Linked DNA regions of Homo sapiens: region 1 is linked to region 2. The links come from fine-mapping of genetic effects on plasma protein levels. Region 2 holds a variant in brackets. A gene starts in the other region. All regions are shown on their reverse strands.

Region 1 (4,509 bases), not on the chromosome of region 2:
GCTAATTTTTTGTATTTTTAGTAGAGACAGGATTTTACCGTGTTAGCCAGGACGGTCTTGATCTCCTGACCTCGTGATCCGCCTGCCTCGGCCTCCCAAAGTGCTGGGATTACAGGCGTGAGCCACTGCACCTGGCCCTGATCTGCATCTTGACTTTTGTCACTTTCTTGATTTTAAGGCAGAGACACCCTTAGAGGAATGGGCTTAAAAGGAGGGTTGGGGAGCAGACACCAAGGAACACACAGAAAGGTGCCAAGAGGAAATAGTTACCTGCGAGGCTCTAAGACTGCCTCTGAGATCCCATCAGTGACCTGACCATAGGGTGCTGGAGAAATGTGGTCACCCAGACACTTTGAAACACTTTCCGTGGTTGATAATTATTATTCTCCTTTTTTTTTTTTTTTTTTTGAGACAGGGTCTCACTGTCTCCCAGGCTGGAGTGCAGTGTTGCAATCTCGTGTCATTGCCATCTCCGCCTCCCGAGTTCAAGTGATTCTCCTGCCTCAGCCTCCTGAGTAGCTAGGATCACAGGTGCCCGCCACCAAGCCCGGCTAATTTTGTATTTTAGTAGAGACGGGGTTTCACCATGTTGGCCATGCTGGTCTCGAACTCCTGACCTCAGGTGATCTGCCTGCCTTGGCCTCCCAAAGTGCTGGGATTCCCGGTGTGAGCCACTGCACCCAGCCCGTCGCGGTTTATAATTAGAGATTTCTCTGCTAAATGATGTTCTCTCTCTCACACTGAGGTGAGGTCTGTTTGGGTCACCTTTGTATTCCCCAAACCGGGGACAGTATTGGGCTCAAATCTGCTCAGAAATGACTGACTGACTGAATGAATAAATCAATACATGAATGAATACGTTTGGAGTCCCCTCTTCCCACTCCTCGCCCTCCCTCCTTCCCTCCAGACCCCCAGGGGCTGCCCAGCCCGCCTCCCACCCCCGACCCGGGAACTCCAGGGACTGGACGGGGAGGGAAGGGTGGGAGGAGGCGGTGGAGGCGGAGGCGGAGACGCGGGAGGGCGGGGCTAGGGAGGGCGATGCGGGGAGCCGGAGCCCGGACCATGAGGCTGGGAGCGCCCCTTCTGCACCCCTGGCCGCCCGCGCCGCGCCCCGCGCCCACCAGAGGGCAGCACCACGACGCGCGCGGACAAGGCTGAGGCGGGAACGGCCGCACCCCCAGCCCCGCCCGGAGCCGCCCGGCCCCGCCCCGCCCGCGAGTACCGACCCCCGGCGCCGGCGGGGAAACAGGTCCGGCGCCCCCGACCCCACGGCCCGGCCCCACTCTGTCTCTGACGTCAGCGCCGTGCCCCAAATAACTTCCTCCCCGAGCCTCTTCCGCCGCGGCGCCGCGCCCAGAGCCAGGCGGGGACACCGAAACGGTAACCCCGGCCCGGCCTTCCCGGAGCCGCTTCCGCCCCGCCTGGTGCCAGGAAGCCCCCGCCCCTTCCAAGGGATGGCAGCCGGGGCCCGGGTCGGCCGCCTGGGCCGCGCTGGCGCGCGCCTGAGGAACTTCTGGGGCCTGCTGTCCCGGGAGGAGGGTCGCTGCGGCCAACTCCGGACCCCGCCCCATGTCCCATCGCCTCCCCTGCCCTCGGCCCCGCAAACACCCCTGGCCTTGACTTTCCCACCAGCGCGGCCCAGCCCCACTGTGTTCCATCGGCGCTCAATAAAATACTGAATGAGGCCGGGCGCGGTGGCTCACCCCTGTAATCCCAGCGCTTTGGGAGGCCGAGGAGGGCGGATCACGAGGTCAGGAGATCGAGACTAGCCTGGCCAACACGGTTAAACCCCGTCTCTACTAAAAATACAAAAAATTAGCCGGGCGTGGTGGCACCTGCCTGTAATCCCAGCTACTCAGGAGGCTGAGGCAGGAGAATGGCTTGAACCTGGGAGACGGAGCTTGCAGTGAGCCGAGATTGCGCTCCAGCCTGGGCGACAGAGCGAGACTCTGTCTCAAAAAATTAAAAAAAATAATAATAATAATAATGAATGAAGCTGGACGGACTTCGCGTGCACCGCGGTCAGCTCGGGGTCTGCTGGGGGGTCTGGGTCAGCTCAGGGTCCAGGAACCGAGGCCAACGGCACCCCGTGCTGCGCTGGGGTGAGGGGTCTGCCCTGGGGTCTCGGGGTTCAGGGCTAGGTCACGGAGGAGTCGGCTCTGGGCGCTTCCTTCCTGAGGAGAGGAGCTGGGCAGGCCGGGCCGACGGGTTGGGCCGCATAGCCGGGCCTGTGCTCATCTCCAGCATAAAACTCCACTTCATGGAGCCTGCACCTCGCTCGTGCTCCAACGCTTCTGCCACCGCCGACCACGGCCCTGCGCCCCAGCCAGGCCTGAGGACATGAGGCGGCCGGCGGCGGTGCCGCTCCTGCTGCTGCTGTGTTTTGGTGAGTCGTGAAGGTGCAGGGTCCTGGTGGTGCAGTCCCCCACCAGGCTCCGCTGCACTGCCTGGGGCTCCGGCTCAGCCCCCTACTCCCTGGGACAGGCTGGGGCTGTGGGACAGGCCATCATCCCTCCTGCCCCTGAGCAGGTGGGAAGGCTCCAGATGTGCCAAGTGGGGAGTCCAAAGTGGGGAGGCAGGGTGGGAGGTGTGCGCACAGGCCCCAGAGGACCCCACCGGCATAACTGGGCAGCACCTCCTCCCATGCCTCTCCGCGGGCACTGGTGTGCCAGCTCTGGCCAGGCTCCCTGCTTCCTGCCACCTCGGCCTCTCCCCCCATTCTCTAGGTGAGGACAGGGGCCTCCTACGTGCAGGATGTGAACTCAGGCTCCAAGTGCCTGGACCATCATACTCGGGGTGGGAGGGTGGCCGAGCCGAGGGCTGCTGCCTGTGCCCGGAAGCCCCAGCAGGCTGGCTGCAGGCTCAGTAGAGAGCTGGGGGCAGGGGGTGTAGGTGGCAGAGGGCCCTGTCTCCTGCTGACAGAGGAACCGGTGATGCGCCACCGTGCCCTCTCCCAGTCCTGGGTCAGGGACAGCAGGTGCCAGCCAGGGGGCCCCACCTGCCAGGCCCCTCCCTGCGGGCCGGGACACTCTCTGTCAGGGAAAACCTCTCACATTCCTGGGCTAGCCTAGCCAGTCTGGCAGCCACCACACTTCCCTGTCCTCAAGTCACCTCCCAGGGCTGGGTCAGGTCATCCCAGGCTGCAGCTTAGCCAGTACTCCAGGCTTCCTTGTTCTCCTGGGTGGGAGGGCACCAGTGGCCCCTCAGTGGCCCGGCCTCCCCCACCCCATGCCCCCAGTCTCCCAGCACAAGGATGGTGCCCTCTGAGCAAGCCATGTGCACAGGAGGTGGAAGGCTGTGACTGCCCCTGAGCGGGGTGAGGAACCAAGGTCATTGCCAAAACTCTTTGGCAATGAGTTTTGCAGTCGGTTCACTAACAGCTGTGACCAGAGGCTGGACTCCTGGACACGTCCTCACTCCCAGCCCGAGGGTGGCACTCCCACCAGGTCTCTGGCTGGTGGTACCCACTAAGCTTCACCATCCCCACCAGCTACCAGCGAATCACAGGCCCAGGCCCCAAACAATGCTCCTGACACCCCCGGCACCCCTGGCTGTTGCTTCCAGCCCCCACAGGGCGCCCACCCTGAAGGGCTCAGCTGTCCACATCCCCCATTTCCCATCAGCCCCCACAGCCACACTTGTGTCCATCCACACATTCCCTGAGATCAGGCCCCCCAGATGCAGCCCTTGCCTTCTCGGAGCTCCTGGGCTAAGATAAGACTTGATTCTGGCTCCAGGGTGATGTAGACAGAGCTCCCATCAGGACAGAGAGCTCAAGAGAGAGTATAGGGCTTCCAAGGTAGACAATGCAAGCAAGCAAGGAAGGCTTCCTGGAGGAGGCAGCATTCAGTTGGGCCTTGATCTCTAGATCACGATTAGGACTTGGCTGGGAGCGGTGGCTCACGCCTGTAATGCCAGCACTTTGGGAGGCCGAGGTGGGCGGATCACGGGGCCAGGAGATCGAGACTATCCTGGCAAACATGGTGAAACCCCTCTCTACTAAAAATACAAAAAAATTAGCCGGGCTTGGTGGCGGGCCCCTGTAGTCCCAGCTACTCGGGAGGCTGAGGCAGGAGAATGGCGTGAACCCAGGAGGCGGAGCTTGCAGTGAGCTGAGATCGCGCCACTGCACTCCAGGCTGGGCAACAGAGTGAGACTCCATCTTAAAAAAAAAAAAAAAAAAAAGACTAGGACTTATGGAGACTGGGGGAAGGGCATCCAGATTGTGGGGTGAGGGGAGCAAGCACTCAGAGACCAGAAGACTCTGCCTAAATGAGAAGTACAGGGCTACTTTAGGAAGGAAGGATCTGCATGGGGAGGAGGCATCGCTGAAGGGGCAGTGCTCAGGCAGGGAGCATGGAGACACAGCTCCTGCAGACTCCCAGAGAGCGAGAAGGCCTGACAGTGCGCGCCCTTCTGCAAGCAGGATCCTCAGGCTTGGAAGGAGCAAGGGGTCGGGGGGCCAGGGAATAACCCTCCCGGTAGTGTTTGCATTTTAAAGGGCACTTA
Region 2 (4,000 bases):
TGACAAACAATAATACGTGACTAACGATGTATTGCATGGCGAATTAACAACTGAAACAATGTACTGCACGTTCACTTTGTGCGAAACCAGGATCTCTTACTCATAGCCAGGGGCAAAAAAAAAAAAAAAAAAAAGGAAGAAAAGGAATCAGGATCCTGCAATCTCTGCCCCACTAACTTTGGGGGCCAGACAGTTCATTGTTGCGGGGTCTGTCCTGTGTATTGTGGGACGCTTAGCAGCATCTCTGGCCTCTACCCACTAGACACCAGAAGGAAATCCCACTCCCCAGGTGTGACAGAATGTTTCCAGACATTTCCAAATGCTGAGGACCACTGTGCTAGATGCTTCTAAGGGCTGTGCAAGTATTAAATATGATCTCGACCCTGTGAGTTCAACACGATAATTACCTCCATTGTAGAGCCAGGGAACTAAGGTGGGAAAGGGGTCAGTAACCGGCCCAGGTTGTACAGCTCGTGAGGAGCGGAGCTGGCACTGGAATTCTGGCTACTTCAGCCAGAACCCCCACATCCTACGGCTTCTAAAACCATCCCGTGCAGACTGGCTCCCTAGACTCCACGATCCCCGGGATGTCCACCCCTGCCCTACACAGCAATTAGGGGAAGGGGTCTCAAGCACATCCAAGTCCTTCGAAGGCTCCGCACAGTGACGAAGAGCCTGTCAAGCCCCTCCTCAGCCACGCTTCCGCACGAGACACAGTCTCTAGCCCCCACAGCCCTGGTGCTCTCTGGAAGCTCTGCAGTATGTGTTCAAGGCACACAGCTGTATTCGTGGGACCACTAACGCCTGCCAGATGGACACCAGACTTCCATGAATCCGACCATTTTTTGCAGCCACATCCCACCACTGGCATGGACTGACTCTCTCCGCTGTAGGCCAGGTCTCCCGGGCTGCGGACTCCTCTGGCTTCCCTGCCGAACTTCAGCGCGGGCCTGGGCTGTACCTGCTTCCACACATTCCACAGCCTGTCCAGGAGTCAGTCTCCACAGTGTCTGCCAACCCACAGCGATTCCTCTCGGCTTAGTGTCCGCTGCCCACGTTCTAGAGGGGACTCAAGCTGGACTGTGCATTTGACGTCATTAATACAACTGCCAGGTACAGTGAGCGCAGGCTACGGGCTGGGGAGTTCTCCCACAGGGTTAGAATCCACCCGATCAACACTCGGATACAGACGGTCCGCTAATTGCAAGTGCCAAGAACAGACCGGTCATCTGTAAAACTCCTCCTCAGCCCCAAAACCTCCATGGACTCTTCTCACTTACGGGGAGAGCCCGGGTCCTTGCTCTGACGCACAGAGACACACGTGCTCTACTGGCCAGCACCTCCTCCCTCCTTGCCCAACTCCTCTCCATGGAGGCTGCCCCACGCACCAGCCTCACCAGGTCTAGGGGGCTACCTAGGCATGCTCCCTCCTCTGAGGCTTTGTACTTTCGTTCACTCAGTCAAGAATGCTTTTCCGTAGACATGGGCTTGGCTATCTCTCTTCATCCAGCTTTCCTTTTCTCTATTTTTTTTTTTTTTTTTTTTTTTTGGAGACAAAGTCTTGCTTTGTCATTCAGGCTGGGGTACAATGGTGTGTGATCTTGGCTCACTGTAACCTCCACCTCCCGGGTTCAAGCAATTCTCGTGCCTCAGCCTCCCAAGTAGCTGGGATTTCAGGCATGCACCACCATACCCAGCTAATTTTTGTATTTTTAGTAGGAACGGGGTTTCCCCATGTTGTCCAGGCTGGTCTCGAACTCCTGACCTCAAGTGATCTGCCAAACTCGGCCTCCCAAAGTGCTGGGATTACAGGGGTGAGCCACTGTGCCTGGCCTCTTTGTCCAGCTCTTACTCAGCTTCTCTACTTCCCAGCAACAACTCCACACACCCAACACTGCAGGCCCCCTCCCCTGCTTGCAAAGATGTTTCTCTTGTTTTGCTTGCTGCTGTATTACCCATGTTGACAATAGTGCCCGGCACCCAGCAGGCTCTCAATACAAACGTGTTGAATTAATAAATGGATCTGTTCATCGGATAGCATCGCTCCAGTGCAGGTGGAACAGAGTGGAAGAGGCAGTGACAGTAGGTCAGATATCTTCTGGCCCCTGCGGCACAGTCCCTGGCTGGACGCTGCAGCCTCACCCCATCATTGAACACTGTGATCACAGCACGCCTGGGCACGGGGAGGCTTCCTGGCTCATTAGAGTTGGCAGAGAGCACAGTGAGTAACTGACCAGCTAACTGCCTCA[G/A]GGTCATGCATGGGAGGATGGAAACATCTCTCAAGCTGTCTGACCTTTGAGGGAAAGGAGCCAGACAGGCTTCCACCTACAGCAAAAGAAGTCTCTCTGTTCCCACCCTCAGGCTCCACAGGCTACCCACCACGACCCCCTCCCGTCCGCCCCTGCAGCCTGGCACTGCAGACTCCTGTATAGAAACACTGTATCACCCGTTTATCAGCTGCCAGTCACAAGACACCAACCACTTGAAAATCATACCTTGGTGTCTGCCTGGGAGGGGCAGAGGCTTTGAATTCCATTCTGAGGGTGAGAAAGCTGAAGCCAGTGTGAGGAGGTGGAATCAAGAGTGCAGCCTGGGCCCAAAGTAAAGGACAAATCCAGTGCCTGTGTGGACCTGCTCCAGGTCCTGGTCAGGGGCTCCCCGGCACCCCTCCATCCCAGGAGAAGCAATGCACCCACCCCAAGGATCTGAAGTTAAAGGCAAAATTGGGGAAGTTGCACTCCCCACCTCCCATCTTTCTAGATGCAGTACCTCCTAGAATCAGCACCCAAGTTCCTGATTAATCCATCTCCAAAGCAGCACCGCCTCTCCAGAGCAGCACCCCCTCTCCAGAACAGACCCTTTCAAAGTTCCTCCACTACTCAGCCAGGCACAGGGGTGCACAGTACTCAAGACATCAGGCTTTAAACAAGTCAGGTACAGTGCATGTAATCAACAAATACTTGAATATATAATATCAGTATTCCCACGAAACAATGAGAAAAAACATGGAAGCAAAGAGAAAACAAGAGACAAGATAGGATCCCACAACTGTGCTTCGGGGTATATACCCCAAAGAACTGAAACCAGAATATCAAAGCGATATTTGTACACCCATGTTCATAGCAGCATTATTCACAATAGCTAATCGGGAAGCAACCCAAGTATCCATCAATGGATGAATGAACAAAATGTGATCTATGCGTACAATGGAATATTATTCAGCCTGAAAAAGAAAGGAAATTCATGTAAAGGAAATATTATGGAGTTTTGCTGTATAAAATCCAAAGACGGCCGGGTGAATGGCTCACACCTTTAATCCCAGCACATTGGGAGGTCGAGGCACGCAGATCACCTGAGGTTGGGAGTTCGAGACCAGCCTGACCAACATGGAGACACCCTGTATCTACTGAAAATACAAAATTAGCCGGGTGTGGTGGTGCATGCGTGTAATCCCAGCTACTCGGGAAGCTGAGGCAGGAGAATCGCTTGAACCCAGGAGGCAGAGGTTGTGGTGAGCTGAGATCGCGCCATTACACTCCAGCCTGGGCAGCAAGAGCGAAACTCTGTCTCAGAAAAAAAAAAAAAGAAAAGAAAAGAAAAGAAAAAAAGAAATTCTGACATACACTGCAACATGGATCAACCTTGAAGACACTATGCAAAGTGAAATAAGCCAGTTACAAAAGGACAAATACTGTATCATTCCACTTATAGGAGGTACTCAAAAGCAGTCAAACTCATAGACACAGAAAGCAGAATGGCGGCTGCCAAGGACTGAGGGGAAAAGGAGATGAGCCATTGACTAGCAGGAGGATGTTTCAGTTTGACGAGACGAAAAGATTTCTGGAGCTGGATGGCGGGATGGTAGCACATTCTAAATGTACTTAATGCCACTGAACTATACACATAAAAAGGGTTAAGACGGTCAACAGGTCAACAGAACCTTGTGCTTGTGCATTTTATCATAACCACCACCAAAACAATCAAAGGAATAAAAAAGAAC

Alleles and levels. Alleles are on the strand shown, and positions count from the first base shown. The strength of an association depends on the size of the effect and on how common the allele is.
For the plasma level of the protein whose gene starts at base 2,277 in region 1, A is the high allele of the variant in region 2 and G is the other (weak association).

Evidence for each region. A credible set is the group of variants that fine-mapping cannot tell apart. PIP is the posterior inclusion probability: the model's chance that the variant is causal. Protein levels are from antibody-based Olink assays in UK Biobank. Linkage for the fine-mapping came from a reference panel and not from the study's own genotypes, which makes the PIPs less certain.
Region 1: it holds the start of PRSS27, and the variant in region 2 is the best candidate, but not a certain one, in a credible set for the plasma level of the PRSS27 protein (UK Biobank, PIP 0.81).

What each region holds. Positions count from the first base shown.
Region 1 is chr16:2,717,992-2,722,500 of GRCh38, reverse strand. PRSS27 (serine protease 27) reads left to right here and starts at 2,277. Exons shown (of 6, transcript NM_031948.5): 1 at 2,277-2,386. The coding sequence starts at 2,341. RefSeq lists silencers at 1-63, 747-816, 947-1,706 and an enhancer at 1,440-2,007.
Region 2 is chr11:126,372,004-126,376,003 of GRCh38, reverse strand. All of the region lies in intron 1 of ST3GAL4 (ST3 beta-galactoside alpha-2,3-sialyltransferase 4), which reads right to left. Among named protein-coding and RNA genes, the nearest start is that of ST3GAL4, 18 kb to the right of the region's middle. The variant G/A (reference allele first, on the strand shown) is at 2,250.